Linked DNA regions of Homo sapiens: region 2 is reported to be linked to region 1. The links are microRNA targets in miRTarBase. Many come from high-throughput screens and were not tested one by one. Region 1 holds a microRNA gene; the other region holds the end of a gene's coding sequence.

Evidence for each region. The annotated mature microRNA hsa-miR-3683 reads UGCGACAUUGGAAGUAGUAUCA and lies in region 1 at 1,228-1,249, shown strand. An mRNA with a match to its seed (bases 2 to 7 or 8) in the 3' UTR can be bound and repressed. Matches are read on the target gene's strand: a 7mer-m8 pairs with bases 2 to 8, a 7mer-A1 pairs with bases 2 to 7 and ends in A, and an 8mer does both.
Region 2: miRTarBase lists NELFE as a target of hsa-miR-3683. The part of its 3' UTR that is shown has no 7-base or 8-base seed match.

What each region holds. Positions count from the first base shown.
Region 1 is chr7:7,064,967-7,068,258 of GRCh38, reverse strand. MIR3683 (microRNA 3683) reads left to right here and starts at 1,214; the gene lies at 1,214-1,295. The region is part of intron 1 of LOC105375138 (a long non-coding RNA gene); the gene reads right to left.
Region 2 is chr6:31,949,541-31,952,832 of GRCh38, reverse strand. NELFE (negative elongation factor complex member E) reads left to right here. Exons shown (of 11, transcript NM_002904.6): 11 at 435-746. The coding sequence ends at 532. It overlaps CFB (complement factor B), which reads right to left. Exons shown (of 18, transcript NM_001710.6): 10 at 3,276-3,292; 11 at 2,686-2,783; 12 at 2,430-2,547; 13 at 2,061-2,214; 14 at 1,889-1,965; 15 at 1,589-1,689; 16 at 1,360-1,492; 17 at 1,229-1,278; 18 at 749-958. The coding sequence ends at 803. Among named protein-coding and RNA genes, the nearest start is that of CFB, 5.1 kb to the right of the region's middle.

The DNA.
Region 1 (3,292 bases):
CCCTGCGACATTGGGTGTAGTATCATCTCCCTCCTTGGATATTACAAACAATATCACAGAGGGTGTCCACCCCCTGTGACATTTGGAGGTAGTATTATCTCCCCTTTTAGATATTACAAACAATATCACAGAGGATGTACATGCTCTGCGACATTGGGAGTAGTATCATTTCCCCCCTTGGATATTAAGAACATTATCACAGAGGGTGTACACCCCCTGTAACATTGGAAGTAGTATCATCTCCCCCCCTTGGATATTACAAACAATATTACAGAGAGTGTATACACACGGTGTTATGATATGGGGAGTAGTATCATATCCTTCCTTCAATATTATGAACAATATCACAAGGGGGTACACCTGCTGCGATACTGGGAGTAATGTCATCTCCTCCATTGCATATTGCAAATGATATAGAGGGGTACATCCCCTGCGATAATGGGTGTTATGACATCTCCCTCCTTGGATATTATGAAGAATATCACAGAGGGGGTACACCTCCTGCAATACTGGGAGTAACATCATCATCCCCCTTGGATATTACCAAAAATATCGCAAAGGGTGTACACCCCAGGCAACATTGACAGTTATATCATCTCCCAACTTGGATATTACAAACAATATCACAGAGGGTGTACACCCCATGCGACATTGGGAGTTATATCATCTCCCACCTTGGATATTAAGACCAATATCACAGAGGGTGTACACCCCCTGCGACATTGTAACATCATTCCCCCCTTGGATATTAAGAACAATAACAGAAAGGGTGTACATCCTCTGTGATTTTGTACAAACAATATCACAGAGGATGTACATCCCCTGAGACATTGGAAGTAGTATCATCTCCCCCCTTGGATAATACAAACAATAACAGAGAGGGTGTACACCCCCTGCAGCATTGGGAGTAATATTATATCCACCCTTGGAATGTACACCCATGGGACATTGGGAGTAATATCATTCCCCCCTCTTAAATATTATGAACAATAACACAGAAGGTATACACCCCTTGCGACATTGGGAGTAATATTATCTCCCCCCATGGATATTACAAACAATATCACAGAGGGTGTACACCCAATGCGACATTGGGAGTAATATTATCTTTTCCCTTGGATATCACAAATCAATATCACAGAGGAAGTACATCCCCTATGACTTTGGAAGTAGTACCATCTCACCCCTTGGATATTATGAACAATAACACAGAGGGTGTACACCCCCTGCGACATTGGAAGTAGTATCATCTCTCCCTTGGATGCTACGAACAATATCACAGAAGGTGTACACCCCCTGCGACACTGGGAGTAGTATTATCTCCCATCTTGGGTATCACACACAATATCGCAGAGGTTGTACACCTCCTGCAACATCGGGGGTAGTATCATCGTCCCCCTTGATTATTACGAACAGCATCACAGAGGGTGTCCAACAACTGTGACATTGGGATTTGTGTCATCTCCCCGTTTAGATAATACGTACAATATCACAGAGGGTGTGCACCTCCGGCAACATTGTGAGTAGTATCATTTTCCCCTTGTATAGTACAAACAATAGCACAGAGAGTGTACACCCCCTGCGACATTGGGTGTAGTATCATCTCCCCCCTTGAGTATTATGAACAATATCACAGAGGGTGTACACCACCTGCGACACTGAGAGTAGTATCATCGTCCACCTTTGATATTACAAACAATATCGCAGAGGGGGTACACCCCCTGCAATCCTGGGAGTAACGTCATCTCACCCCGTGGATATTATGAACAATATCAGAGAGAGGGTACACTCTCTGAGATACTGGGAGTAACGTCATCTTTCCCCTTAGATATTACAAATAATATCACAGGGTACTCCTGCTGCAATACTCGAAGTAACGTCATCTACCACATGGGATATTATGAACAATATTACAGAGGGGGCACACTTTCTGCGATACTGGGGGTAACGTCATCTCCCTCCTTGGATATTACGAACAACATCTAAAAGGTGGTACACCCCCTGAAATGCTGGGAGTAAAGTCATCTCCCCCCTTGAATATCATGAACAACAATACAGAGAGAGGGGGTACACGCCCTTCGATACTGGGAGCAACGTCATCTCCCGCATTGGATATTACGAACAATATCACAGAGGATGTATACCTTCTGTGATACTGGGAGAAGCGTCATCTACCCTTGGGATATTAGAAACAATTTCACACAGGGTGTACACCCCCTGCGATACTGGGAGTAAAATCATCTCCCTCCTTGGATATTATGAACAATATCACAGAGAGTGCATACACAGGGTGTTTACGATCTTGGGAGTAATATCATCTTCCCCCTTGGATATGAAAAACAGTATCACAGAGGTTGTACATCCCCTGCGACTCTGGGAGTAATATGATCTCCGCCCTTAGATATTACGAACATTATGAGTTAGGGTGTACACCTCCTGCGACATTGAAAGTAACATCATCTGCCACCTTGGATATCATGAACAATATCACATAGAAGGTAAATTCCATGTGACATTGGGAGTTATGTCATCTCTACTCTTGGATATTATGAACAATATAACAGGGCGGTGAACAAAACCTGTGATATTGAGGGTAATATCATCCTCTCCCCCTCTGAATATTACTAACAATATCACAAGGGGGTGTACACCCCCTACGAAATTGGGAGTAATACCATCCTCTTCCACTATGGATATCACAAACAATATCAGAAGAAGGTGTACACTCCCTGCGATATTGGCAGTAATATCATTCTCTCCCCCTCTGGATATTATGAACCATATGGCAGGGGGGTGTCTCAGGGGGCGTACCTCCTCTGTGATATGGTCCTCTGTGATATGTGTATATTCCTCTGCGATATTGAGAGTAATATCATCCTTCCCCCCCCCCCCGTATATTACGAACAATATCACAGAGGGTGTATGACCTTTGCGATATTGGGATTAATATCAACCTCTTCTTCCCTTGATATTACGAAAAATATCACAGGGAAATGTATACCACCTGCGATGCTGACAGTAATATCAACCTCTGCTCCCCTGGATATTACTAACAATATCACAGGAGAATGTATACCCCATGCAATATTGGGAGTAATATCATTTTATCCTCACCTGGATATTACGAACAATATCACAGGGGGGTGTACACTGCCTGCGATATTAAAAGTAATATCATCCTCTCCCCTTCTGGATATTAGGAACAATATCACAAAAGGAGTGTACATTCTTTGCGATATTCAGAGTAGTATCATCCTGTTTTTCCCTGAATATTCGGAGAAATATCACAGGT
Region 2 (3,292 bases), not on the chromosome of region 1:
CCATTTTCCCTGAAAGTAGATTTTCCTGGGAAAGGAGTGAGCAGAAAGAAGGGCTCAGCTACAGTGGCCCTTCAGGCAAAAGAAAGGAACTAGAATTGACCAGCATGTCAAAAAAGGGCTACAGAGGTTTTCTAGTTTTTAGCTTCTGACATACTGACTGTAAGTAGTGGGTTAATATCATTCACGTGTCTCAACAATGACATTTGGGATTTTTCTAAGAACAAAACATTCATCAAAATGTCCACTTATACTTTTCTTGGCCATGGGTTGGCACAAAGGAGCTAAGGAAGACAGGCCATCCTGGCCACCAGAGGGCAGCGTGGAAACTGGGCTTCCAGGGGCCAGTGGCCAGGAGTGAGGTGGTCAGGAGTCAGCCTCAGGGTCTGTTCTATGATCTCCTTTAGACCTTAACTGTTCCTCTCCTCCCTCCCTAGCTGTCCAGAACAGCCCTAAGGGTTGCCACCGGGACAAGAGGACCCAGATTGTCTACAGTGATGACGTCTACAAGGAAAACCTTGTGGATGGCTTCTAGGGAACAGAGCTGGATTCCTTGTGCCTCATATGCCCCAATGCTGGTCTCAGTAAAACACTGAGGTGGAAGCTTACACATCTCCCTCAGCCTCTGGTTTTTCAGCACTTGGGATTGGGGTTAAACCTTTAAAAACGGCTGTCAGGTTTGATCTCAGTGTAACAACATGGCCAGTGCCTGTTCCCCACTCCCTTGCCCCAAAAGGATCTGGAACACAGGTGTTGTCGCAGCTGTTTTAATTCAATCCCACGCCCCTGTCCAGCAGGAAACCCCTTATAGAAAACCCAAATCCTCATCTTGGAGTTTCTCCTTCAGCCAGGGCAGCACTTGAAAGAGGTTGATGTGAAAGTCTCGGGCGTGAGCAGGTACCTGCTTTTGCCGCTTCTGGTTTTTGCAGACATCCACTACTCCCCAGCTGATTACACCAACCTGCAGAGGCAGTGGGGTGCCATGGATCATTCAGTAGAATTCCTAATCCTGGAAGCATGGCTGTTCCTGCTTGTGTCTTAGCTGACCTAAAGGAATCAGACTAGGGACCCAGCTCAGCCTCGTTCTTGACACACGCAGGCAAGACATGCGGTCCTAAGGTGAGGCAGGCTCTGCCTACCTCGAATTACTAGCCACATGCATTGAGCTTTCCTGCTTTGGGGCCCATGCTGACCACTTGGCATCTCCCCAGATAGGAAAGGGAGGACTCACTTGAATGAAACGACTTCTCTTGTGAACTATCAAGGGGCCGCCAGAATCACCTGCAAGGAGAGGAGAAGCTGTAGAGAAAAGGACTGTTGGGCCTTGGGCACTTGTAGCACAACCAAAGAGCATTCTCTCACCTCTGCAAGTATTGGGGTCAGCATAGGGACTCACTCCTCCAGTACAAAGGAACCGAGGGGTGACCACCTCTGAGATGTCCTTGACTTTGTCATAGCCTGGGGCATATTGAGCATCTCTCTCACAGCTGCCTTTCTGTAGGGGAGGTGGGAAGCATGGAGAAGTAATGAACAGAAGTGGCTTAGGAAGGATTGGGGCCTAGAGTGCCTCCTTAGGATGCCCGTTTCTCACCTTATCCCCATTCTTGATGTAGACCTCCTTCCGAGTCAGCTTTTTCTCCTCCTCAGACACAAACAGAGCTTTGATATCCTGTGCAGGGAGCAGCTCTTCCTCTGGACGAATAGACTGCGTCACTTCAGCTGCTCCCACCACTGTCATCTCCCCATTGCCTTTGTCACTCAGTAGATGTCCCCTAAGCCCTTCTAGAGCTAGGTTCTGGGCCAGGCATCATCTCTTCCTATTGCACCTCCCTCTCATGCCCCACTTGTCTCTTGGGATCTCATCCTTATCCTCTTGCCAAGTATGTCTTACTTTGTTGCTGGCAAGTGGTAGTTGGAGGAAGCCTCAAAGCTCGAGTTGTTCCCTCGGTGCAGGGGAGACAAATGGGCCTATAAAGGACAAGGAGAACAGCAAACCAGGCCTGCTCCTCACCCCAGTCCTCCAGCCTTTCCCAGCCTTTCCTCAGGGATCTGGACGCTCTCACCTGATAGTCTGGCCATATTTCAGCTTATTCTTGAGCTTGATCAGGGCAACGTCATAGTCATAAAATTCAGGAATTCCTGCTTCTTTTTTCCCATTAATGTTGTAGTTGGGGTGAAATAGGACTACTTCTATCTCCAGGTCCCGCTTCTCCCCTCCTGAAGTAGGAGAGTAGGTACCACCTCTTTGTGGGCAGCTTCCTGCCTCTGGCCCCGTGTCATTCCTAACTTCACGTCTTCCCCCATCCCTGACTGGTCTGGGGTGCAAGGAATGGGGCTGCATTGAGGATGGGTGGAGTGTAGGATCTGTAGAAAGTGGGAGGTGTTGCCTGGAGAGCATAGGTGCAGCCCAGGACCTTCAGTTGCATCCTTACCTACGCTGACCTTGATTGAGTGTTCCTTGTCATCCACAGTGAAACAATGTGCTGCTGTCAGCACAAAGTACTCAGACACCACAGCCCCCATACAGCTCTCGTGTCCCTTTGAAGGGCGCTGGGGACACAACAGTAGAGAGGGAAAGCTCAACTTTCACAAACCACCATCTCTTATGGCCATTTTTTCCTTCCCCTACTCCCATTTCACCTTGACCTCACCTCCCCCAAGTCCCCACTACTGGGATTCTGTGCTTACAATGACTGAGATCTTGGCCTGCCATGGTTGCTTGTGGTAATCGGTACCCTTCCTGTGTTCCCAAACCATGCCACAGAGACTCAGAGACTGGCTTTCATCTGGCAGAGAAGGAGAATGTGCTGAAAACTCGGAACACTTCATTCCCAAATGGCAGCAGCCTTTTGGGTAGGAGTCTATGGGGAGCAAAGGCCCAAAAGGAGAAAGGGAAAGACCACGGGTATTTGTTTCCTCGTGTTAGGAGAAAACTGCTATGGTGGACTGAAAAGGGAAAGAACTTGGGATCAAGCTGTCAGAGGCCTGGCTGTTTTCAAGCCCACCCTTGTTGCTAACTTGCTGTCCCTTGACCTCCTTTGGCTTCTGTTTCCACGTGTCAAATGTAGGACTATAGAAAGATCTCTGAAGTGCTCAGAGCTCTGTGATTCTAAGGTTAAGTGAACAGTGCCAGGAAACAAGAATAGTGACACTGAGGTAGAGAAGGAGGAATGAAGAAGGCTTTCCAGGCAACTAGAGCTTCAGGTGTAGAGGAAGAATGAATTACTTCAGGGGAACCTGAGGAGAGTTGTGTTCTTTATTCCCTTGTATCTCCCTACCGATCATTTGGTAGAAA